Linked DNA regions of Homo sapiens. The protein of the gene in region 5 purifies or fractionates together with the protein of the main gene of each other region. This does not show direct contact. Each region holds a gene or a part of one and is shown on either strand. Other genes may lie near its edges.

Region 1 (3,500 bases), on a different chromosome or scaffold from region 5:
CAATTAAAGGAAAATATAGACTTAATGAATGTAAAATAAAGAATCTCAACAGAAAAACAGAAACTATAAAAACCCAATGGAAATTCTAGAGCTGAAAGCACAATTAAACAATTCACTAGAAAGGTTCCACAGCATATTAGAAATCACAGCGACCTTGAAGAGTTCAACAGAAATCACCCAACCTGAAGAACAGAGAGAAGACTGAAGAAAAATGAACCTTAATGACCCATGAGACAGTATCAAGCTCTCCAATGTATGTGTTATTAGAATCCGAAAAGAGAAAAAGCAGGAAAAAATAATGAAGAAATTATAACCAAAAGTTAAACAGAATAAAACAATATAGGTACTGCTTTAAGGTTAAAAACTTATTTATATAAAAACCCACTGTATACTCAAGCAATTTAACAAGAAAATCTACATTTAATTTTCAATTTCTCTAAGATGAGGAGATAAGACAAATCAAATATAATTCGAATACTGCAACTAATCAAATTATAAAATAGTTCAGATTTTTAAAAACTTTCTAAATTTTACTTTCAAAAATTTACTTGAACCCAACAGTGCTTATTCTTTAAGGGGGAGGGTGCTACTCTTGGGGAGAGGACATAAGAAAGCTTTCTGAAGTGCTGGAAATCATCTACATCTTAATCTAGTTAGTCTTTTACATAAGTGTACACATATGTAAAAATTTGTTAAGCAGAACCCTTAAGATTTGTGCACTTCACCATATCCAAGTTATTCTTCAATTAAAGAAAGAAGGAAAGGGAAGAACGGAAAGATGAAGGAAACGAAGGGTGTAAAGGAGTTGGAAACCAACTTACCTGAAACCTGATCATCTGTTAAGCCAAACGCTGACATAACATTTTTATTGATTTCATCTTGGTTTTTTAAAGGATCAAAAGCAGACATACTTGCTGCCATAACCTGAGTAGACTGTTTTCCAGAAGAATCAGAAGCAGACTTTTCTTCCCTACCATCCACAGTATCTGTAAAAATAGAGGAATAAACAAAAACTTGTTTCCTTTTTATCTATATTCAGTAAGGCCTAAAAGTACAAGGGAAATAATGCAGGTGTATAATGATAGTCTGGAATGTTAAGCATGTCGGAATATAGGATTACAGATCATTTTAATTCCTTTATTTTTTTTATATTTTTCCTTCTAGTAACAGGGAGAAGAGGGCAAAAAGAAACAGAAGATGAACAAAAGCTTTCCAAAAAAATTATTTACCTCCTTTTGTAAGAAACATTAGATGAAAAAAATACAAGCTCCTTGATAAAGAGAAACATTTTACTTTTTTTGGTTTTTTTGGAGCCCAATAACCTATATCCTAGTATCAGATACCCACTGGGCACTCTGGAAATAATAATTATAGGAACTAAGGCTTTATTTTATAAAAAGAAACTGAACTAAGGTTATAATCTCAAATTTTACATTTTATTTCTACTGTCTACTGGTCCACTATTAAATTACATGGAAATCAAGCCAACCATAATTAATTCATAATCTTCCATAAATAGCACATTAAAAACATTTTTGAATTTGCTACCTTCTATTTTAATATGTATTACTTATTAAAATACTTATTAAAATGCTTACAGATGAAATGATGTATATGGGATCTGCATCAAAATAATACAGGAGGGGAGCCGGGTGCAACAGCTCATGCCTGTAATTCCAGCACTTTGAGAGGCCGAGGTGGGTAGATCACTTGAGGTCAGGAGCTCGAGACCAGCCTGGCAAAACCCAATCTCTACCAAAAATACAAAAATTAGCTAGGCACAGTGATGCATGCCTGTAATCCCAGCTACTCAGGAGGCTGAGTCACGAGAATCACTTGAACCCAGGAGGCAAAGTTTGTAGTGAGCTGAGATTGTACTCCACTCTGGGTAACAGGAGGGGCGGAAATGTGTATAGTGTAATTATATGATACTATAAGTTGGTAACTGTTGAAACTGGATGTGGGTTTCTGGGATTCATTATAATGTCTACTTTCTTATATACTTAAACTTTTCTATAATAAAATGTTTAAAACAACAACAGAAAAACAAAATGTCAAATATTATGAGCAGGTTAAATTTAAAATCATGCTTTTCTTCTCAGGATACTAAGATATTCCACAGGCATTTATACTACTGTCTTGTGAAAGAAAAAGAGTTCAAGAATTTTAACATACATTTTACAAATAGGAATCCAAGTCCAAGATACAAAAGACATCAAAAGAAACAAACAAAAAACACGAACAAGTAAACAAAAAGACTGTTGCTAACCATTTACTCAATTAAGGGACAATGATTATCACTTTTGTTACCAAGCAAGTAAATGAACATCAGTTCTTAGATCACCCCTGTAATCAATACAAAATGTATCTTCTGAAAAAAATGTTAAGTGCTAAACCGAATATAAGTACCCACAGCACACACTGGCTGGCAGCTCATTCATTCCTAACATACCATTCCAGGCTACCCTAATATTTTCTAAATGTTTGGAAAAAGAAAACTACTACTAGAAGTATTCCTTTAAAACATGTCTACCAGTTATCTATCTTCCCTACCAACTTCCTTCCTCTAATCCCAAGAGCATACCACGTCAGTCTTACAAGTTGTTTCCCCTCACATCTCACTACCTATGCCTCTTTTCACTTATCACAAACTAAAACCATCAGGAAACATACTATACGTCCTACTACTTGCTCCATTAGCTGCTGGAGATACTGCAACAGGTCAATCTTCTATCTAAGGTAGTTTACACATCATTTGCCTCTTAAAGGAAAACAAGCATCCAAGAACCGCTGTAATAGAGAGCTGAAGACCACAGGTGGCCACATTTCTTGGTGAGGGTAAGCCACAGGTTCTAAATAGCACTGATAGCTGATTGGCAATTTCATTTTGTGGACTAGATTTCAGTTTCTGATGTATGGTTTTCTTGTTGTTTTTGTTTTCTAAAAAAATAAGAACTATCTCTAAAAATATAATGCAGATTGTATTATTCTTATATCATCTTATCATCAGATATGTCAGACAGGACACAATAACTAGAAAATGGCCATACAAGAAAACAACATATGGCATGATTTCCAAAATGCAGAGAAGAAACCAATTTTAACACCTTTTACATTAACATAGGTAAAAAGCTAACAGTATGTATAAAAAATATAGACACAAAGAATAAAGTATAAACAGTAGCAAGAAAGAGGTGAGGAAAAAGTTTCACCTAAAGCAAAAAACTCATAAATCCATTCCTTAGAGTAGAATGTGGGCCACTGTAGCTAATTTCTGAACAGTATTGGCTATACTGGTTAAATTCTCATCTACACTTCTTAATATTCTGCAGATGGTTAAATCCCCTGAAATTATATGCAAATGTTGTGTCAGCATCTATGAATTCTTCTGGAAAAATTGTCTAACTTTTTCATTGATTCTTGATCTAAAATTGGAAATTTTTGTTTGGAGAGGTAGGGCTCAGAATAGGCAACCTTCTTTGACCTGAAATATAAAAGGT
Region 2 (3,500 bases), on a different chromosome or scaffold from region 5:
TCCACTAATCATCAATGCCTCGCTTTCTGAAAGGTTTATTTCAGGACCCAGAAGCAGTAGCTGAATTTACTCCTCAGCCAGCATACATTATCTAAACAGTTACCAAAAATACCCCAGCAATCCAAGTATCTTCCTAAATCTGAACAGACTGTTTTAACTTTTTTTCCAAGAATCTATGTAATGTAGAAAACTGAGAAAAAGAAAAAGGACCATTCTATATAAATTTGAAAGTGATTATATTTTCCTTCTTTTAGTTATTATTCTCGGTAGTGAATCTATATTTCGCTCTGGCACAAAGCCAGTAACTGATTGGTAGAAATGGAAAAGAGTCACTAGATCACATCAACTATATCACAACAACCTACAATTGTTGTTGACCAGATTTTGTTTTGCCAAAATATACTGCCCCACCGGAAAAAAAAAAAAAAAAAGCAGGCCAAATAGACTGCTGACCCACATGGTTGCTATCTGCAATTTGTTTAAATGAGCCAGTTCTAAGTCAATGATGTCAGCAATACCACGATCCAGGTATGGAGGGAGCAAGCGTTAGCAGTATCTCTGCATGATCCGCACACCAACAGCAGCAATCCCCAGACCCCAGCTATTGTCTGTCTCTGGCACAGGGCTGATTAAGAAAGTGGGAGCTCAATAAATATTTGCCAATTGACTGTCTGGAGTAGATATTTATCTAACATATACCTCACTGCATACACAAATGCTAAATGTTTACACCTTAAAGAAATAACTATTGCTTCCCAGTACAAGCTCTTAAGTAACAGTTCATTTCCTCTCTGTGGAAGCTGGTGTTAAAGTACATAACTGATCTTACAAAGATGTGACTACCTATCAGCATCAGCAGCAATTCCAGTACAATTCCAATACCTTACACAAACCAAAGACGCCTGTTCATGAGACTAGGCAGGATCTAGAAGTCTCCCTTCACAGCTGCCTTTAAAATGTAATTCTAAAAGGTCAATCATCTTAATTTAGTAATTTTTCCACATACAAAGAATTTCTGAAGTTTTGCAGAGGACTAAAAAGTAAAAACATGAGGGGGAGGCACAAATTTGGTGGCAGAGAACACTATGGAAAAGGACATGGCACCACCTAGACTCTGGGTTTGCTCTGGGTTGGTAGGGGTGAGATGCCCAGAAACTTCAAACACAGAAAGAATAGAAAAAAATATCACTATAAATGATTTTCACTAATAGTGGGAAAATAAAATTAATAATTTTTAAGAGACTACAAATGCAAAAGGTGAGGGAAGAAAAGCAAGGGAAAAGTGAGAATGGTAACAGTTCATTTCCACACCCTATTATCTAACCAAGTCCCAGGTTTCTCTCAACAAATACCCTCAACCTTTAAACTTTAGAAAGGTTCCAAAAAGCTGCTTTTCAAAATTTTAATAACATAACTGGCAGTGAAACTACTAACCTTTGTAATACACATCTCCAAAGAGATCCTCAAACTCTATGAGGATTACCCCAAAGTTAGAATTGAGAGGAAGTAATGTACTAATAAAAAACAAAAACAAACAAACAAAAAAACCATTAGCATCCTGATGGAATGTCTGCGGAAGAATTTACTCACAAACTATGAAGTGATAAGATTAATGGTTACAAAAACAAGATTATTTTACTTACAATACACATTAGCAGCTAACAATTTTAAAAGAAAGAGAAAAATATTTTTATTTCAGTTTGAGAAGGAAAAGTTCTGGGGATAGATGATGATGGTGACAGCCACACAACAATGACAATGTACTTAATGCCACTGGAATGTATGCCTAAAAATGGTTCAAATGGTAAGTTGTATGTTATGTACGTATAGCTTACCTCTATTTAAAAAAAAAACCATATATTTAATTTTTTAGCATCCCATTACAAAAAAAGAAAAAATGTAGCATTATGGTCCAGGATTTCTTCTGGATTTCATCAAATATGGCTTCCCTTCCAGAGTCACCTGATAAGGAATGGCTTCTGGTCTAGTTCTCCAGCTCATCATTCATCAAGGCCCAGGAAGACACTGAGAAGTGCACCTTACAGAAGATGGTCAACAGAGGGTGAATCTCCTCCAGATTCTGCTGCCATCTACCTGATTTTAATAATGGAAATAAGAGTAGCTATTCATAAACCAGATAGGCTTAAGATTTTAGGGCTTTAGTCTGGTGCCTGGTAATAAATCTCATCCAAGAAACAAGTTAATTTCATCATTAGTTCATCTGTCAAACTCAGTAGCCTTCTAATATTCTTGGCATTGATCCATACAGATGTGGGTTTGAAAACTGCCTACTGGATCCTATTTAAGTAAGTAAATCTTGCCTGGCAGGATGGTTCACATCTGTAATCCCAGCACTTTGGGAGGCCGAGGAGGGTGGATCACTTGAGGTCAGGAGTTCGAGACCAGCCTGGGCAACATGGCGAAACCCCATCTCTACGAAAAATACAAAAATTAGCCAGGTGTGATGGCGTGCACCTGTAGTCCCAGCTGCTTGCGGGGCTGAGGCAGGAGAATCACTTGAATCTGGGAGGTCAAGGCCACAGTGAGCCAAGATCGCGCCACTGCACTCCAACCTGGGTGGCAAAGTGAGACCCTGTCTCAAAAAGAAAAACAAATAACTAAATGTAAGGAAAGAATTTTCTTAGAATTACTCCAAGTCAAAGATTTTGAAAATAGAACATATTTAGTGAAAACTTACAGTGGAAACACATATTCTACTCTGAAAAAATTCACTCACTCAAAGTGAATTGCTAATTAAAACTATATAGTATATGTCTATCATTCCATTCATTCAGATGTCAGTATAAGGAAAAACAAATGAATACTTAGGACACTCAGGTAATGACTGATACCTAAGTCATTTTATCTTTACCAAATTTCCTGAAGAAAAAGTTGCTAAAGTACACCAAGTTTTTAGATCAGAATTAATTCACTCAATTACCCAATTAAACCAAAAGGGCCATTGAGTCTCATTCAAATAGCCTCCAAGCTAGAGAAAAGATATTTATAATAGTTCTACATCTATGATACAGAAATATATTCTTGGTAGAGGAACAGTTTTGCCTGGTGCCTCTCCCGGACACGACAGGGAACAGGGTTTGGGATTCCTCAGCCTCAAGCAAGCACACACAGCAAGCGTGCGGCACTACTTTACATATCCACAGAGAACCTGCAAAAACCTCCCTCCCATTCAGGAAAGGGCACCTCCGAAAAGGCATGCAACCAAAACCACCCAATCCCAAAAAGGCCTAAGAGGTGGATACGGCCCCTTGAGTAATAACAGCAGTGTAAAATGTCATAAAAATTTTATAACATCCAACTGGAAAACCTAAATATTGCAAAAAAAAAATGGAATTAAGTTTTATTAATATTTTCAGCCTCCATAAATCTGTCATTTTATGCAACACACCACACTTCTATCAAACATAAATATCAATCTCAAATTTACAAATCTACACATACACTCCAAAACAAAAGTGACACGAGTGAAATATCAGTCC
Region 3 (3,500 bases), about 72 Mb from region 5:
ATCTAGCTTACATGTTTATAGCAATTACAGAAACAATTCAGACCCATCCCCATAGCAGGTTGGGGCCTGCCTGTGGCCGATAGCAGATTTCTACATGGAGGGACTGAGGGATGTTCTGATAAGAAGAGTCCCCACATCTGTTTAAAACTGTCTTTCTGAGGTGGTGGCTTGTCTGTCTCATGTGTACTGTGAAGGGCCACGTGTCCTTCTGCACTTAATTTTCCTTGGCCCTGAGGTTCAGAGAAAGCTCTGTTTGTACTTTTCATCACTGGCAAGAACTGTAAGCACACTGCCCAACTTCATCTGAGTCACCTGGAGGCTTCTTTAAAAACACTGATCAGAAGGCATAATAATGTTCACTCTCCAGCCACTGGGGTGGGGAGAATGTAAAACTGTGAAAAGGAACATTTTTGAAGCCACAGCTGTCAGAAGGTGTGGCGTCATCTGCATCTTGAAACACATACCAGGATGGGATCCCCCAGGCAGGCAGCTCCTTTCTCAGAGGCTTCAGAGCTCACTCACAGTTGGTTCATCTTTACCACTTCAAAATGCAAGCTTTGGCTGTGTCTTCTTCCAAGGCCGCTAGAGTTCACGCATCTTGCCTCATTCATCTCGGTATCCATTGCACCTGCACATAGTAAAGGCCTAGTAAGCCGCTGTTCAATTGCATTGAAATTCCAAAGCTAGGGCTACAATTCTCACTCTGCCTACTGTCCTGAAGTTGTTGTTTGATCACTATAATGTCAGAATGTTTTGCAAGATTATGTCCCCATGTGCATGTTGTACCCGGAGGCAGGTGGGCATTTGTCTAGTAGCTCTGGGGTCACACACATTATTAGCATCTTGCCTCAGGGAAGAGAGAAAGCTGCAGAAGGCTGGAAGTGGCCCAATGACATGGTGAGCAGTTAAGTGGCCTGCTTATAGCTCATTTGCATGCACATGGGCACTTTCCACATTCCTGTGCAGTTCTGTAGTTATTTTCTAGTGGTTGGTTTCTACCCAAGTCATTGGTTTGTCTTTTTTGCCGAAAAACCAGACAAAGGAAATATGTAAAGAAAAGTGTCATTGCCAAGATTTTCAATAAGGAAGTAACACGATTTGGCATATTTGCATCTCAAATAATATCCCTCCTTCCCCTTCTTTAAATAAGGTTGTTATGAATATTGCTGCTTAATCATTTTTACTAGATTATGGAAGCAAAATTTTAGCACCATGGACTGTGCACGTGTCAGATTTTGCCACTAATTACAGAAAAAAAAATTTGCCCTAACTGAAGAACTCGAGTTCCGTGGAAGGGCAGATTCCCCAGGGTTTATACTTATTGGGGTAGGTTCTGGAGGACACATATTTTGATTATACTCAGGCAGGTATCATTATGGTCAGAGACCATGTCATATTCTCTTCTGCCACCCACAAAGAAAGGATGCCACAGCTAAAGTGAATTGAAAACCACTGGACTGGACCAGTGGTTATCAGCCTTTTGGAGCTAGGATTGCCCATTGTTGCCTTGGAAAAATGGTTGAGTAACTGAATAACAAACGGACCTTGAAGACCACTTGTTGTCCAGCTCTTTTCCTTTTATCCAGTCCTTGAAACATACTAGTTAACTCCAGGGAAACCAAAACCACAATTTGGGACAAACAAAAATGATACTTTTTAAAAAATATAAGAACAGCTAAAAATAAATGGACTGAAAAAATAGAACTATCAGTACACTTTGAGCTTCAGGTTTTGGAGTCTTAATCACTGGAGATCAATTAACAAAACCAGAACTAACAGACGGTACAATTGTCTGGCTAACCCCACTCCTCCCTGAAATCCAGGGATGGTGAAATCATCATCTCCTGGGGACATTTTTCAGTCTCTGTGTTGGAAAGTTTTTCCTTATTTGTCTCATTGTATCTTCAAGGAAGTGATGTGATCCCTTTCCCACCTACAGTGTCTTAGTTACCCTTCACCAACACTGCCGATTTTTTCCCTTTCAGATTAATCATCTTCAGTTTTACCCACAGTTCTTCATAACCCTGCTCACTGTCCTTCAAACTTGTTCCTCTGTCAAGAAAGGGAGGTGAAGGCCAGGTGCTATGGCCCATGCCTGTAATCCCAGTACTTTGGGAGGCCAGAGTGGGAGGATCACGTGCGGCTAGGAGTTCTAGGTTGCACTCAGTTATAATCTGCACTGCACTCCAACCTGGGCAACAGAGCAAGATTCTGTCTCTTAAAAAAAAAAAAACTATACTTAAAACATTAAAAAAATAAAATAAAAAGAAGAGGAGATGGGATGGGTATGGGGGGAATTCAGGAGTTTAGTCCTGGTCATGTTTTAGTGCCTTGAAATCAGACAGTTGGATTTATGAGAACAGAGCTCAGGGAACTCAGAGTCGGGCTGGAGATACTAATTTGAAATCCATTAGCATATTAGAGGTATTTGAAGCCCAGAAGACACATGATGTGACCTAGAGTGAGAAACATTTTAAGAAGAGAAAGGGCCCAGGTCCAGTGTTGACAGGTCATAAGGCCAAGAGGAAGGAGCCAGTAAGGGAGACTTGTTTCAGGTTTTTGCTTGTTGGTCTAATTTCTCTAAAATGTCATGACTCAAACTGGACACCCTATTCAGGAGTCATTTGACCAGGTTAGGATTGTGAGAGTTGATAATGTCTATAGTTTTCAATACCATCTTCTATTAAAGAAGTCTAAAAGTGACTTTTGACCATCACCATACACCATTAATGGTCAATGGGGAAGTCAATGGGGAAGAGATGCAGGCTTTGAGGGGCTCGACAATTTATATAATTTAAGGGCTCTTTTTTAAGAAAAATGAAACAATTATTAATATACAGTTAAGTACAGGGCCATGCCAATGAGGTACCTTGAAGTTTAAGCTTCTTTGGCTTCATGATAAATCCATTTGACTGTCAACTAAAATCCCTGAGTCTTTTCCATGGATATTATTGTTAAGCCACATCTCCCAATCCTGTAGTTTACCCTGCTGGTTTATTGAACCTTACATTTATCCCTTTAGAATGCCATCCTGTTAGAATTGACTTAGCCACCATCATCCCAATGTCAAGAGCTTTTATAAATACCTTAATTCTGCCATTCCACATTTTGCTGTGTCTCCCATTTTCATACCATGCACAAATATGATATGCATGCCTTCGCCATTTTTATCCAAGTGAATACAGGCCAGAAAATGAGACTTGAGGCAGCCCATCATAGACCTCCCTCCAGGTTGACATTAAGCAGCACTATTTATATGGCTGGCTGGAAATCCACCTAATTCTACTATCACACTGTTCAGGGGTCCTATTAAATGTCTGGCTAAAACCCAGAGATACACTGTCTACTGTATTTCCTCATCAGCCAAGCAAGTAACCTAATCAAAAAGGAAATGTAGTTCGTAGGCCATGGTTTAGAAATTCAAATCTTGTTTCATTAATCTCATCTGCAGTAAAACCATTTATTTCTTACATCTTCCTTCCTCTTCCAGTATGCCTGCA
Region 4 (3,500 bases), on a different chromosome or scaffold from region 5:
GAACACCCTCTGGTTTATTCAGACATGCAGCGGGCCCCTCACGTCACCCTTTGCTTGCAATGCCTACCCTGGGCCCCCGCTCAGAACAGCCTCAGCCCCGGCCCTGGAGCCCCCTGGCCTGTATCCTTCTTCTGCTCCGTCTCTGTCCTCCTGTTGAGGCCCTGCCCTGCCTGGCTTGCCTGGGCCCCCGCCCGCAGCTCTCCCTGCTGCCCATGGCTCCGTGAAGTCTGCCTGGACTTCAGGTGGATGTGTCTGAGGGGGTGGGAAGTGGCAGTGGCCAGCATGCCCTTGGAGGCCCCAAGCCCCGGCCCTGGCCTCCCCAACCCCCCCTTTTTTTTTTTGAGACGGAGTCCTGCTCTCGCCCAGGCTGGAGTGTAGTGGCGTGATCTCGGCTCAGTGCAAGCTCCGCCTCCCGGGTTCATGCCATTCTCCTGCCTCAGCCTCCCGAGCAGCTGGGACTACAGGCGTCTGCCACCACGCCTGGCTAATTTTTTGTATTTTTTAATAGAGACGGGGTTTCACCGTGTTAGCCAGGATGGTCTCGATCTCCTGACCTCGTGATCCGCCCGCCTCGGCCTCCCAAAGTGCTGGGATTACAGGTGTGAGCCACTACGCCTGGCCAGACCTGGCCCCTTCTTGCCTCACCTCTTGCCCTATGCTCCGGCCATCCCACAGTGGTACCAGCTGCTGCCAGCCCTGCCCGGCTTCTCCAGGGCCACCCCCCTCCCTGTGTGCTTGGTAGGCACAGCTCACAGGTGGCTCCTTCTAAGACATTCCCTCCATCAGCAGCCCTGGGACAAGGTGCTTCTGAGGCCCTGGACCAAGAAGGACGAAGAGAGGACTCGAGCCTCATAGCCTAGCTAGCCCCACATGGCTGAAGCTCCCTGTGGTGGGAGGGATAGGAGGGGCAGGGCAGGGCAGACATGGTGTCGCTCACAGCCACACCGTGCTACTCCGGTTCGGCACCTCCCACTGACGGATCAGGGTCCCTAGGGAGTGGGAGATGAAGGGGAGCCCCGGAAGGCACCCGGTCCCGTGCATTCACTTTTCACAAGGAGAAACGGGGACCAGTATGGTAAGCGTGCTCAGCTTGGAGCCCACTGTGGGGCATTACCTTCACGAGGGGGGCCATCAGCCCAGCAGGGAGATCGAAGTAGGGCACATTGGGGACCAGGCTGGGGTCATCGTGGTTGATGTGGGGTGGGCCCTGTCGCCGCATGTGTGGGGGCTGCCCGTTGAAGCCATGGGGGGGAGGGCCGAAGTCAGGGTGCTGGGGTCCAGCCCAAGGCGGGTGCTCGTTGATGCCAGGATGAGGCATGCGGTGGCCAGGGTGGTGGTGAGGGGGCCCCATTTCTGCAAAACAGAGACTTGCCTCAGGACCACAGGCCAGTCAGGATCTCCCAGGCGACAAGTGCTGGAGGGGAGGGGCTCAGTGAAGGGCCAGGAGACGAACCCCTCCTGGGAGCCTGTCCAGCATCTTCTCTCACTGCTTAAGACCAGGCAGCAAGGCACCGAGGAGCCAGGCTCCGAGGGGCCTGTCCCGCACCCATAGGCACAGCCGAGGGAGCTTGAGGCTGAGAGAAGAGAACCCCAAAACCCCAAAACTGCACGGTGAGGGCTAAGTTGTGACCCTCCGAATCCATACGCTGAGGTCCCAGCCCCCAGTAGCTCAGGACGGAACTGTATTTGGAGACAGAGCCTTCAAAGACACAAATGAGTTAAAATGAAGCCATAGTGGCCCGAATCCAACGTGACTGTTGCCGTTATAATAAGAGATTAGGACACAGACATGTAGAGAGAAGACGGTCACCTATGAGCCAAGGAGACAGGCCTCCAAGACACTAACCTGAACCCGCCACACCTCCACCTTGGACCTCCAGCCCCCAGATCCTTAAGACAATACATTCCAGCTGTTGAAGCCGTCCAGGCTGTGGGACTTATCATGTCAGCCCAAGCCAAAAAGTAAAAGCAATAAATGTGCCAAGCGGTCTTCAAGCTGCATTTATAATCAGAAATGTATTTAAAGAGAGAAGGCTGGGCATGGTGGCTCACGCCTGTAATCTCAGCACTTTGGGAGGCCAAGGCGGGTAGATCACTTGAGGCCCAGAGTTTGAGACCAGCCTGGCCAACATGGCGAAACCCCATCTACTAAAAATACAAAAATTAGCTGGGCATAGTGACTGATGCCTGTAATCCCAGCTACTGAGGAGGCCAAGGTGGAAGAATCACTTGAACCCAAGAGGAGGCTGCAGTGAGCCGAGACTGTGCCACTGCACTCCAGCCTGCGTGACAGTGAGGCTCAGTCTCAAAAAAACAACAAACAACAACAACAAAAGGCCAAGCGAGGTGGCTCACACCTTTCATCCCGGCACTTTGGGAGGCCGAGGCGGGCGGATCACCTGAGGTCAGGAGTTCGAGACCAGCCTGGGCAACATGGTGAAACCCTGTCTCTACTAAAGACACAAAAAATTAGCCAGGCATGGTGGCGCACACCTGTAATCCCAGCTACTCGGGAGGCTGAGGCAGGAGAATCATCTGAATCTGGGAGGCGGAGGTTGCAGTGAGCTGAGATTGTGCCATTGCACTCCAGCCTGGGCAACAGGGTGAGACTCTGTCTCAAAAAAAAAAAAAAGTACTAAAAGATTAGAAATAAAATCAATAACAAAGATACTAGGCATGGTGGCTCACATCTGTAGACCCAGCTACTCTAGAGGCTGAGGTGGGATGACTGCTTGAGCTCAGGAGTTTGAAAGTAGCCTGGCCAACATAGCAAGACCCCATCTCTATTTAAAATAAAATAAAATTTTTTTAAAAAAGAAAAGTAGTTTTTTGTTTTTTTTTTTTGAGACAGCGGTCTGTCGCCCAGGGTGGAGTACAGTGGTGCGATCACAGCTCACCGCAACCTCAGCCTTCTGAGCAGCTAGGACCATAGGCGCCCGACACCACGCCAAGTATTGATTTTTTAAACGAACTAATACAACGGGAAAACTGATGCAAAAAACAAGCAGCAGCAGTAAAAAGAACGAGGCCCCGCCCTGCCCTCGCCACGCCCACCCACGGCAGGAACCTTTTCCTACTGGCTCTGCCTCATCTGCAGCCAGCCGGGCCTCATCAGGGCGGCAAAACTGAGTCTGTGCCCCCACTTCCTGAGAACCCAGGCCGGGCTCCTCGGACGTCCCATGACCCTGTGTCTGTCACTGTGCACTCAGGAGCATGGCAGGGCCACAAGCAGCGCCACCAGCCTGCTCGGCAGGCGAGCCGTGGATGCCTCCGCCAGGCCCTACCCAGGCGCCCGTACACTCACCGGCAGGGAAGTCCCCCTGGGGGTAGTCGAAGCGGTGGGGATAGGGCGGCCGCTCGAAGGGGTGCCGTGGCGGGAAGTCGTCCTGCATGAAGCGGGGCGGGAAGCGGTTGAAGTTGTGGGGGTGCGGAGGCTGGTTGAACTGCGGGTGCTGCTGGTGGGGCGGGAAGGGCCCCCGGAAGTGTGGGGGCCGCTGCAT
Region 5 (3,500 bases):
ACCAGTGCTGTGGGCCCTGGAGAGTCAGAGGGTCAGCTCTGGGAATTAGATTCGCGTTCTAGGCCGAGACCCAGGAGCCAGGGGAGCTGGGGCCACTTACCTTCCCCGTGCCTCGGAAGCTGAGTGTGAAGCTCTGCTCTTCTTTCTGTCGTGGCTGCGGCTGGATTTCCTCACACATCCCATTGCACGGCCTGCCTCACAGCTGCAAGTGCACCTTCTCCTGGGACTTAGGGGGTCAGGGCTGGGGGACAATCCCCCACACCCCCACCCAGGGCGAAGGTGACAAGACTTTAAGGGATTTCACCCCATTCACAGACAGGCATGCATTGCCCAGTCCCTGGTTAGTGGTCAGCAGTGGGGCCCCGCCAGGCTCTGAGGGCTGAGGTCTGGTGGGAAGCCTCAAGTGAGTTTGCTGCAACTGATCTTTTGCTGCTTGACCGTTCCTCTCTGTCTCAGCCATGTTTGACCGTGAGAACAAGGCCGGCGTGAACTTCAGCGAGTTCACGGGTGTGTGGAAGTACATCACGGACTGGCAGAACGTCTTCCGCACGTACGACCGGGACAACTCCGGGATGATCGATAAGAACGAGCTGAAGCAGGCCCTCTCAGGTTTCGGTAACTCACTCACTCTGGCTTGTGTAGCGTGTTTCATTTTGGAACCTTGGAGCCGTTGAAGTTCTTTAAACCTTGTTGGACTTAACTGATTGTCTAACCAGGCTACGTAAAGTTTTTGTTGACGTCATGCAGGTTCATATTTGATATTGCTCATGTCGGAAGGCGATCCTCGACATGGATACGTTTATTCAGGTTTTTATCCAAAATGAGATAAGGGCTATGCAAGCCGTTCATCTTTTCTGAAGTGGAATGATGTCGTGAGCAAAACTGAGAATGTGGCTTTTGAAATCATTTAAAAGTGGATCCATGAAAATACCGTGGGGCAGGGCAGCTTATATTTCATGATAGATCAAAGCACGTTGAAAAGGCAACAGTCACCTAAGAAACAGCTGTCAGTCACCAGGTCCAAACCGTGCGCCTCAGAAGGGGCGTTAGGCAGAACGCGTGCCCATTCTCAGGTGTGCTCGGCGTGTGTGTGCTCGGCGTGTGTGTGCTCGGCGTGTGTGTGCACACGTGTGCCGTGCGCCTCAGAAGGGGCGTTAGGCAGAACGCGTGCCCATTCTCAGGTGTGCTCGGCGTGTGTGTGCTCGGCGTGTGTGTGCACACGTGTGCCGTGCGCCTCAGAAGGGGCGTTAGGCAGAACGCGTGCCCATTCTCAGGTGCGCTCAGCGTGTGTGTGCTTGACGCGTGTGCACACACACATGTGACGGTGTGCCGTGGGTCTAGGAGTGTTCACAGTGCCTGTCCAGAGTGCGTCCATAGGGCCTGTCCACGGGGCTTCCCGTGCTGCTCTCAGGGCTGAGAGGAAGCAGGGGTTTTATTTACAGAGGAACAACGGGCATGTTTGGGGCCAGCCTGAGGCTGTTGGTGGCTGCACCGAGATTCTAATCCATGCGGATCTCATCTGGCCCCTGTTGTGAAGCCGCTTCCGTGATTTGCTTAAAAGGCTCCTTAGAAACAGTGAGGAAAATTCGATTCTACTTGAGTACCTCCGAGATCCCTGGAGTCTCACTTATCTAAGCACGTCGCCTCTCCTCGTGTTTCCTCCCAGCATGCACTTTGTGGCTGCCTTTCTTTCTCTTTTCTTTCTCACCTTACGAGCTTGTCCACAGGGCCGGGGGTGGACACTGGGTCTCCTCAAGAAGCAGTTCTGAGCTGACCAGCTGCGAGCCAGGATTTGGGCTGGATGGCTCTGAATTGGTACTTGGAATGCAGCTGACCTTGCTGTGCCCTTGGGTGGGGGAACTGGAGGGAACGCTGGCCGGCTCCTCTTCCCTGGGGCAGGTACGGAAGGGCTGGGAGGGAAGGATGCCACCCTCCACAGAGAGTGGTCCTGGGGGCCAGGGAGGCCAGTGCTGCCGATTGCGGCCAGGGCCACGTGGACTTCAGGACCGGCCTGAAGTTATTTTTAGATAAGCGACCTCTGGCGCCACGGACATCTTTTCCTAACCTTGTCAGGCCCTGGAGCTCCCTTTGTCCATGCCAGTGACCATCGGTCCTCAGAATGTGCAGTGGAAGTTGCTGTGGACAGTGCTCCCTGGTCTCTGAGGCCCTCTTCGTCCTGGTCTGGCCAAGGACTTCCCAGAAAACTGTGCTTAGCTGTGGCGGGAGGCACGGCCGGTCACGCAGCCTTCCTCCCGCCCTGGAGTGGGCAGGCCTGCTTGTGTTGTGCAGCGGCAGAACCCTTCCTGACTTCCAGGTTTTTCCTGGGGTGCGGCATCCCATCGCAGCATTTTCTCTGGTTACCCTCACGAGTTTCCTCCTGCGTTTGGTTCTTGATCTCCAGGGCCATCTCCCACGTCTTCCTTGGAAAGGGGCATTGTCATCCTTTTTGTATTTTGATGATTTTGAAAGATTTCCCATAGTAACTGTTAGGAAGTTGGCCTCAGAAGCAAAAATTCTTCTTTTGTCTTGGCCCCTGTGAACAAGTGTTCTGCTCTCAGATGAAGCAGGGAGGCTGCACTGGAGCTTGGTGGCCAGCAGGAGGGAATCACCAGGGTGGTGAAGCCTGCGAGATTTCTCCCCGGGTGTCTCTGATGGGGCCACATGGTGGATTTCATAATCCACCGATTCGTTTTTTTAAGCCTTTATTGTTAACATCAACTGTGTGCCATGCTCAGAGACCTGAAGTGAAAAGGTGAGGAAGGCGTGCTCACATTCCAGCACTCACCACCCGGCACCGGGACAGCTGACTCAGCACGTGCCGTTTAGGTTGCTGTAAACAGCCGGTGAGATTCTCCCCTCTGGTGGGCAGTGCGTGTCTGACAAAGGCAGTCGGGCGGAGAACAGTTCCTCCGCTGTGGTCCTTTGCCACTGTACCAGGCCCCCAAGAGCTGGGGGGAGCCCCAGGGAGCCTCAGCCTGTTGAGTGGGGGCAGCTGGTTTGTCCTCCGAGGTGGAAGAGGTGATTTCTGAGGAGGTCATGCTCCGCTTGGCTCGTTCACAGCATTTCAGAGAGTCCGAAAGAGGAGAAAGACCTTGGCAAGGGGTGTGTCAGGGGTGGGCCCAGGGACGCTGGTGGCCTCATGTGGACTGACTTTCATGAACAGAAACTCAGAAACAGTTGCTTCTGGATTTTGGCTTCTCAGATAAACATTCTTTTTGTAGTTCGTTTGTTCATCCCTCATTTTGCTGTCTGACTTTGCCTTTCTTTTCCCTTCACTATTACTGATGACCAAGGAAACTGGAAGTTAATTCCAGAGGCAGTGGGGTTGCTCCTGTTGTCTGTGCAGACTGGAGTTCCTCTGCCTCTGTCAGCATCTCCTCTGTCCTTCCCCAGCCTTGGCAGGAGACCAGTAATGACCTCTGTCCCCGTGCACCCCAGTGATGGCCGCCGTCCCCGTGCACCCCAGTGATGGCCGCCGTCCCCGTGCACACCAGTGAGGG
Region 6 (3,500 bases), on a different chromosome or scaffold from region 5:
TTCCAGAATTGGTAGAAAACTGCTTATATTATAATAATCCACTACAGGAAGGACAAGAGAGATCTGAGGGGCTCTTGCCAGCACAGCTGCCTGACCCACTTCTCAGGCCCCCTGGCCTCCTGTCCCCTGATTGTCCTGCAGGTCAGCCATCCCTGGCCTCTAGTCCAAAGCTTCAGGCCTACAGAGCACCCCCACAGCAGCCAGAGGCCATCCAGGCAGAACAACAGATTCACCTTGAGCCCCAGCCCTGGGGAAGAATAAACATAGACTGCCACCCCTTGGGCACACCAGGAGGGTCCCAAGTGCCAGATCACAGGGCCACAGGGGCCCTAGCTCCCCATGAGAGCACATCCCACAGCAGAACAAAGCAATGGGTGAGCAGCACAGTGGGGCTGGGTGGGGGGAGATGGCCCCCTGCCCTCCTGCTCTCAGGCAGCAGCCAAGAGCCCAGAATGAGAAGCCTCTCCCACCCGCCTCCCCCAGGGCCTGGGCTGTGATTACTCCAGACAGGCAACTCTCTGATTTCAGGAAACTCTTCAGAGAGGGTTGTGGGCAAAGGTTTTATGAATTTCACTCACAAACGTCGTCAACCGATTAAGGGATGATCTATCTCAAACAACTCAGAAATGCCGCAGAAGGCAAAATGGAAATTAAATAAGCAGAATCTATCTCCCATCCTAGACAGGGCTCTGTGAGTGAGCACACAGGCCAACACTGCTGACCTGGCCCCGTGGCTCTTGTCCCCACCCCACAAGCCCCAAGGCCACAGGGCCCCAGGCTGAGTCTCTGTCCACCTGGGGTACTGGAACACCAGTCACCATCTGTACCCTAGACTCTCCAAATTTGGAACTAGACACTGCACCCATTTCCAGTTTTTCCTCCTCAAGGGACCATGCCTGCACCTGCACAGGCTCCCCTGCAGCCCCAACAGGCTTGGAAAGCCACCTCTGCGCACTACCATCCTCCCTGCTCTGAGGAACCACACCGGTGACAATGCAGCCTGCCGTGTATGCTCCCCAGAGATGATCCCTCAGTATCTGGGGGATTAATTAACTCCTCCTGTTATTTCAAATGCATAACACAGGGGTGATGCCCACAGCCTTGGCCCTCCCACGCTCAGCCTTCAGCAGCCCCAGGGGAGCGATGACCGCCTCTCTGTGCCAGGAGCAAACATCCTCGGCTGAGCAAGCTGCTCAAGACCCACCCTACTCGGGTCAGCCCTGCTGCCGTGCCAACGGGGAAAGCAGGTCCCTCACCCAGGAGAGAAACACCCTGCAAGGAAGAGCAGGAGAGCTGGCAGCACCCAGCACCCCAAACCTCTCGCAGGCCCAAGGGCCTGGGCAGCCTATAAGTTCAGCAGCATGGAGGGTGCCTGTGAGCCCCCAACCAGGGTCCTGGCCAGAGACCCTTTATCCACTGATGAGGTATGTGATTCATTCCTAGCTAGTCACTGCAGCACCAGCTCCAAGGGAAGCCTGCTGCTAGCCTCTAGGGCCCAGCAGTGGCCACGGAAAATGACAAAGATGGCACACTGCAGCTCACCACAGCTCCTCTTCCCTCCCCTTGTGAATTTCCCAGGGGTGGAATAGAAAATAGGATTAAATACCCACCCCCATGCCCCCAAGACTTACCTACTCAGTATCACTCACAAATGACCCCCTGCAGGGGCCGGGCCTAAGTCTCCCTCCAGAGGAACCTTGAAGGTACGTGAGACTCCCCTGCCCGCTGCCGGCAGGCTCAGGCTGGGCTGGCTCTGAATAAGCCCTAGTCCCCTGCAGGTGGGTCAGGAGCTCCACCTTGCACTACCAATGCCGCCAAGTCAGGGTCACAAGCCTCTGTGCATAGCAGCTTTCAACAGGCAGACTTGGACTCCCCAACCCTAGCTCCCTCAGGCTGTGTCAGCTTGTGCACCCTGGAGACCCTGGTGGGTGGAGTGACAGTGGGGAGAGACCCCACCCCCTAGGCAGCAGATTACAGATGCTGCCCTGACCCACACATGCCTGATGTTTCAAGGGGCTTACTCTTACCTGGAGTCAGGGTACTTGGTGAGCGTGGCCAGGCTGCTGGTGTACATGTGGCCGCCCACATCGATGTGCACAGGTGCATTGGACTTGGTGAGCTGGGCTGGCAGGGGGATGCCCTGGGCAGCCAGGGGAGACACAGGCGACCGGGTGAGAGACAGCCGGGACATGTTTCCTCCCTCCTAGAGATGGAAACAAAGCGGAACACAAGAGTTTCAAAGCGGAACACAAGAGTTTCTCCACAACACAGCCATGCACTCCCTTTATTGAGAGTGTGATCACAGATCTAATCAGATCACTTCTGCCCGTGCCTGATCATATATTCAGCTGACAAATTATGGCCACCACTGTAATTAAGTGTATTTGCATCATTTTCTTCAAAGTACCAGAGGGAAAAAGAAAGATGCTTATTAGCAATAAGAAATCAAGAAAAAAAATTTTTCAAGGTGTCAGCCTCCAGGGGCATAAAACAAACTGCAAAATTCTAATTAAAGGTCGTGGGCTTATGTGTTAGATGTGAAATATCCCCTGACAAACGAATCACCAATTTGTGAATTGGGATTCAGGGGTTTTTTGCAAGTTTGTCTCAGTAACGAGACACCTCTAAATTAGTGACTTCCTCAGCACCTAAGGCGTTGAGTTTTATACATGTAGTAAATTTCACATCAAATTAAGAGCATTTTTGTTTCAAAAATACATAATCCTACAGCCAGTCAACAGCCACCTGGAGTGTCATGGTCCCAAGGAAGGACAGCCAGTAAACAGGCACTGGGGAAGAAGGGAAAGAGGGAACTCCCGGCAGGGACCCAGCCCACCCTGCAGGCTCACCGCGGTGCCGGTGCTGCCGTGTGTGTGAAGCGAGGACCCGCTCGGCCGCTCCTTGCGGTGAGGCATCTAGGCTTCCATCCCTGCCCAGAGTATCTGCGGGAGGCATCGACAAAACCAGAGAAGGCTTATTCCTCCTAGTCATGTACCATGGGGTCAAAGACACTTAGAATTGTCCTTTCTGCATGCTCTCTGAGACCCTGCGAGGTCCATGCAGCCCTCCCTGATTGACTCCACCGCCACTATCTCTCTATCTGTCTCCACACCCCAAAGCAGGCCTCCAGGCTGTAGCAGATGACACACACATACATGCACACACACACAGTCACACTCACACATGTGTTTTCTGGGCAGCTCCATGTCTGCTAATTCGGCTAATGACAGCACTGAAACATATGCTCACCATTATTGCCCCAAAATATTTCAGAACAAACCAGATTTTCCTGGTATTTTCCTTTCAAGCCATGTTACCAAGCGTGTCTCCTCTTGCAACAGCCTTGTGGACCAAGGCTCAGAAAGCACCCCTCACCCTCCATGGGCCAGGGAACCTAGGACCTCTCTTAATACCATCCCCATGGTGATAAGATACAGCTTGCATCTGGCCAGACACAGGGAAGCCGTTCAGCAGAAGTCCAGGCACATGGATGAGGGCAA
Region 7 (2,958 bases), on a different chromosome or scaffold from region 5:
TAAGCTTGTGTGTATAAACCACTGGGTACTCAACAGGTGGTGGTAGTTGTTACTGGAAGATCTGCTGAGAAACAGTAGTGGCAATTGACTAAGTGCTTCCCAAGTACAGGTTGGATCATTACATCATATAATCTCCATATAGAACCTAGGGGTAGGTCCCACTAGCCCCATTTTAAAGAGAAAGAAACTGAGGCTCAAGATGAAATTTCTGGGCCAAGGAAAAAGGACTTGACCCCAGGTCTGCCTAGTCCCAGAGCTATAGTGCCACCCATTCCTCACAACAAACCTTGGAAGGGACTTCTACTAACACCTTTATGAGGAAAATGAGGCCCAGAGACGGGAAGCTATTTGTCCAAGCTCACAGAAACAGGATGTTGTGGGGCTGGGGGTTTGGATCTGTGCCTGCCCAACTCTTGTTCTAAGAAATATTCTAGTTAGCTGGGCCTGGGAACCATCCATTGGTCTCCTGGCAGCTGATTCCAGGCCCGGCATGAGGAAAGTGCTTGGGAAATGGCTGTGCGATAACTGAAAACCTCTCTGGTTTACAGGAGCCTGTGCATACCAGAGCCAGGGCACTGGCTTTCCAAGAATGGGAACTGAGCCTGGAGCTGCTCAGGATTGAAGCTCTCTGTGCAGAGGGCAAGTCCTCAGCAACCTTAGTGCCCTGGTTATTATGTCCAAAAGACAAAGAGGTCAGCCAGCCTGGGCAAGGGGTGACTCCAGTCAAGTGCTTTCTTGGGGATTTAGTGAGGTTAGTGACACTAGCCAAGAATAATGTACTTGCTGGAGGGATCAGTGCTTACAGCCCATCCCCTTGAGGGTGGTGGGAGAAGAGCAGGTTCTGGGAAGGTCTACATTTACTCCTGGGTTTGGAGGGGATCTGGGAATGTGTAGGGTCCATCTGAGTCAAGATCACGGCCAGGGAGAAAGAAGGGCAGGCTAGAGGTTAGAGTGAAGACCAGTAGCTGGGGCATGTGTTGATTTCCCCAGATCCGCCTCCACCTAACTTGCTCAGGTTCAAAAGCACACGTGCGATCACTACATACAAACACACACTCATTCTCTCACCTGTGGAGGGCTGTAGCTGCTGACGGTGGGGGTGCTGGTATTGGCGCTTGAGCCAGGGATGTTGCTGTTCTTATTGTAGGTGCTGGCCCCTGGGGGGTTCCGAGCAGGGCTGTAGCTGGGTGGTGGCGGTGGCTGCTGGGGTGGTGGCTGTGGTGGCGGAGGCTGCTGTGGTGGCGGCTGTTGCTGGGGAGCCCGGTTGTAGCTGCCTCTGTTGTTGGAGTTGTTGTTATCCCGGTTGTTGTTACCCCAGCGGTTCTGGCTATAGCCACCACCTCCGCTGCGGTTGAAACCTGTGTTGGAGAAATCCAGATGAAAGGCGCCATCATTCCCAAATGGCAACCCCAGGGAACTGGGTTGTCTTGGTGACTACTGTGAGCCGGCATGGCCAGGCGCAGAGCAAGAACTCAAGGTGAACAACAAAGCATGTCCTCTGGGATTCTCTAGACCCCCGGGCATACTCCCCTGTCCCAGCCCTTATGACAGGTTTGTCTCATTCACTGGACTGCAAGAATGGTGAGGCAGAGACCAAGGCAGTCCTGGGTTTCTGTGTCCCAGCATCTCAATAGCTGTTGAATATGCAGGAAGGAGATGCTCAAGGAGAGGAAGCTGGCAGGGTGCGGTGGCTCACATCTGTAATCCTAGCACTCTGGGAGGCTAAGGCGGGTGGACCACGTGAGGTCAGGAGTTCAAGACCAGCCTGACCAACATGGAGAAACCCCATCTCTACTAAAAATACAAAATTAGCCGGGCGTGGTGGTGCTTGCCTACAATCCCAGCTACTCAGGAGACTGAGGCGAGAGAATCGCTTGAATGCCGGGAGGCAGAGGTTGCAGTGAGCCGAGATTACACCATTGCACTCTAGCCTGGGCAACAAGAGCAAAACTCCGTCTCAAAAAAAAAAAAAAAAAAAATGAGAGGAAGCTAAGCACTGGTGACAGCCATGAACGAGTCACATCTAGTCCTCTTCAGACCTGGCCAAAGATGTAGCCCCCATTTCCAATAGATTTTGATCTAGATCCTATTTCCAAGGAGCTCATGGTCAGATGGGGGAAGGTTCACAAAAATGACAGCAATGTGACAGAATGTGCACTGTGATATGCAAATGGGCAAAGGGCTTCATAACCAGCGTCCAGGGAGTGGGAAAGTGGGAGCGTTTCTGAGGTCTCCGTGTCTGACTTGTTTCAAGTTTTCTACCAGAGTATAACTCACAGCTGGAGCTCAGAAAACTTCAGTTGCTGATTGAATAAGCAGTCAAAGCCCAGCCCCAACCTGGGAACAGAAAGTGGAGAGTGCTGTGTGTGAGATGTCTCACCTCCTCGGTAGTTGCCTCCTCCACCGCTGCCTCCCCCTCGGTTCTGGAAGCCGCCACGGTTGCCTCCAGGGGGTCCTCGGTTTTCATAGCGCTGGAAGCCACCACCACCCCCGCGGCCCCGGAAGCCACCACCACCTCGGTTGTCAAAGCGCTTTTCAGGGGGTGGCCCAGCCTTGCGGCCTTCCTCGTTGTACTGCCTCACTAGCTTGTCCGCTTCCTCCCGCTGCAGCTCAATGAACAGAACCTCATCCAGGAAGTCCCCAACATCTGGCAACGTGAAGTTGGCTAGGAGGAAGGAAGTGCCCCAAAGAGAACAAGAAGAAGAGGTCAGTACCTTCTGAAGTCTGGTCCCCTCCACCCAGAAGAGTGGCCTTCCAGAAGGGAGAAGGTGAAGAAAACTGGAATAGTGAATAAGAAAGACATAGACAGAAGGGCGGGCGCGGTGGCTCACGCCTGTAATCCCAGCACTTTGGGAGGCCGAGGCGGGTGGATCACCTGAGGTCAGGAGTTCAAGACCAGCCTGGCCAACATGGCAAAACCCCATCTCTACTAAAAATACAAAAATTAGCCAGGCATGG

What was found.
Region 1: the proteins of PDCD6 (region 5) and TFG purify together in Homo sapiens (affinity purification with mass spectrometry, with the first as the bait; one large-scale study listed by BioGRID). This does not show direct contact.
Region 2: the proteins of PDCD6 (region 5) and ARID1B purify together in Homo sapiens (affinity purification with mass spectrometry, with the first as the bait; one large-scale study listed by BioGRID). This does not show direct contact.
Region 3: the proteins of PDCD6 (region 5) and MAP1B purify together in Homo sapiens (affinity purification with mass spectrometry; one large-scale study listed by BioGRID and IntAct). This does not show direct contact.
Region 4: the proteins of PDCD6 (region 5) and CHERP purify together in Homo sapiens (affinity purification with mass spectrometry, with the first as the bait; one large-scale study listed by BioGRID). This does not show direct contact.
Region 6: the proteins of PDCD6 (region 5) and KCTD15 purify together in Homo sapiens (affinity purification with mass spectrometry, with the first as the bait; one large-scale study listed by BioGRID). This does not show direct contact.
Region 7: the proteins of PDCD6 (region 5) and HNRNPUL1 fractionate together in Homo sapiens (co-fractionation; one large-scale study listed by BioGRID). This does not show direct contact.

What each region holds. Positions count from the first base shown.
Region 1 is NC_000003.12:100,729,994-100,733,493, reverse strand, and holds part of TFG (protein TFG), read right to left. Parts: intron 987-3,500; coding exon 822-986; intron 1-821. UniProt on the Homo sapiens protein: Plays a role in the normal dynamic function of the endoplasmic reticulum (ER) and its associated microtubules. Required for secretory cargo traffic from the endoplasmic reticulum to the Golgi apparatus.
Region 2 is NC_000006.12:156,783,878-156,787,377, reverse strand, and holds part of ARID1B (AT-rich interactive domain-containing protein 1B), read right to left. Parts: intron 1-3,500. UniProt on the Homo sapiens protein: Involved in transcriptional activation and repression of select genes by chromatin remodeling (alteration of DNA-nucleosome topology).
Region 3 is NC_000005.10:72,187,475-72,190,974, forward strand, and holds part of MAP1B (microtubule-associated protein 1B), read left to right. Parts: intron 1-3,500. UniProt on the Homo sapiens protein: Facilitates tyrosination of alpha-tubulin in neuronal microtubules. Phosphorylated MAP1B is required for proper microtubule dynamics and plays a role in the cytoskeletal changes that accompany neuronal differentiation and neurite extension.
Region 4 is NC_000019.10:16,521,938-16,525,437, forward strand, and holds part of CHERP (calcium homeostasis endoplasmic reticulum protein), read right to left. Parts: coding exon 3,305-3,500; intron 1,354-3,304; coding exon 1,115-1,353; intron 1-1,114. UniProt on the Homo sapiens protein: Involved in calcium homeostasis, growth and proliferation.
Region 5 is NC_000005.10:306,146-309,645, forward strand, and holds part of PDCD6 (programmed cell death protein 6), read left to right. Parts: intron 1-456; coding exon 457-615; intron 616-3,500. UniProt on the Homo sapiens protein: Calcium sensor that plays a key role in processes such as endoplasmic reticulum (ER)-Golgi vesicular transport, endosomal biogenesis or membrane repair.
Region 6 is NC_000019.10:33,799,870-33,803,369, reverse strand, and holds part of KCTD15 (BTB/POZ domain-containing protein KCTD15), read right to left. Parts: intron 2,943-3,500; 5' UTR 2,916-2,942; coding exon 2,850-2,915; intron 2,204-2,849; coding exon 2,028-2,203; intron 1-2,027. UniProt on the Homo sapiens protein: During embryonic development, it is involved in neural crest formation. Inhibits AP2 transcriptional activity by interaction with its activation domain.
Region 7 is NC_000019.10:41,302,372-41,305,329, reverse strand, and holds part of HNRNPUL1 (heterogeneous nuclear ribonucleoprotein U-like protein 1), read right to left. Parts: intron 2,666-2,958; coding exon 2,381-2,665; intron 1,359-2,380; coding exon 1,069-1,358; intron 1-1,068.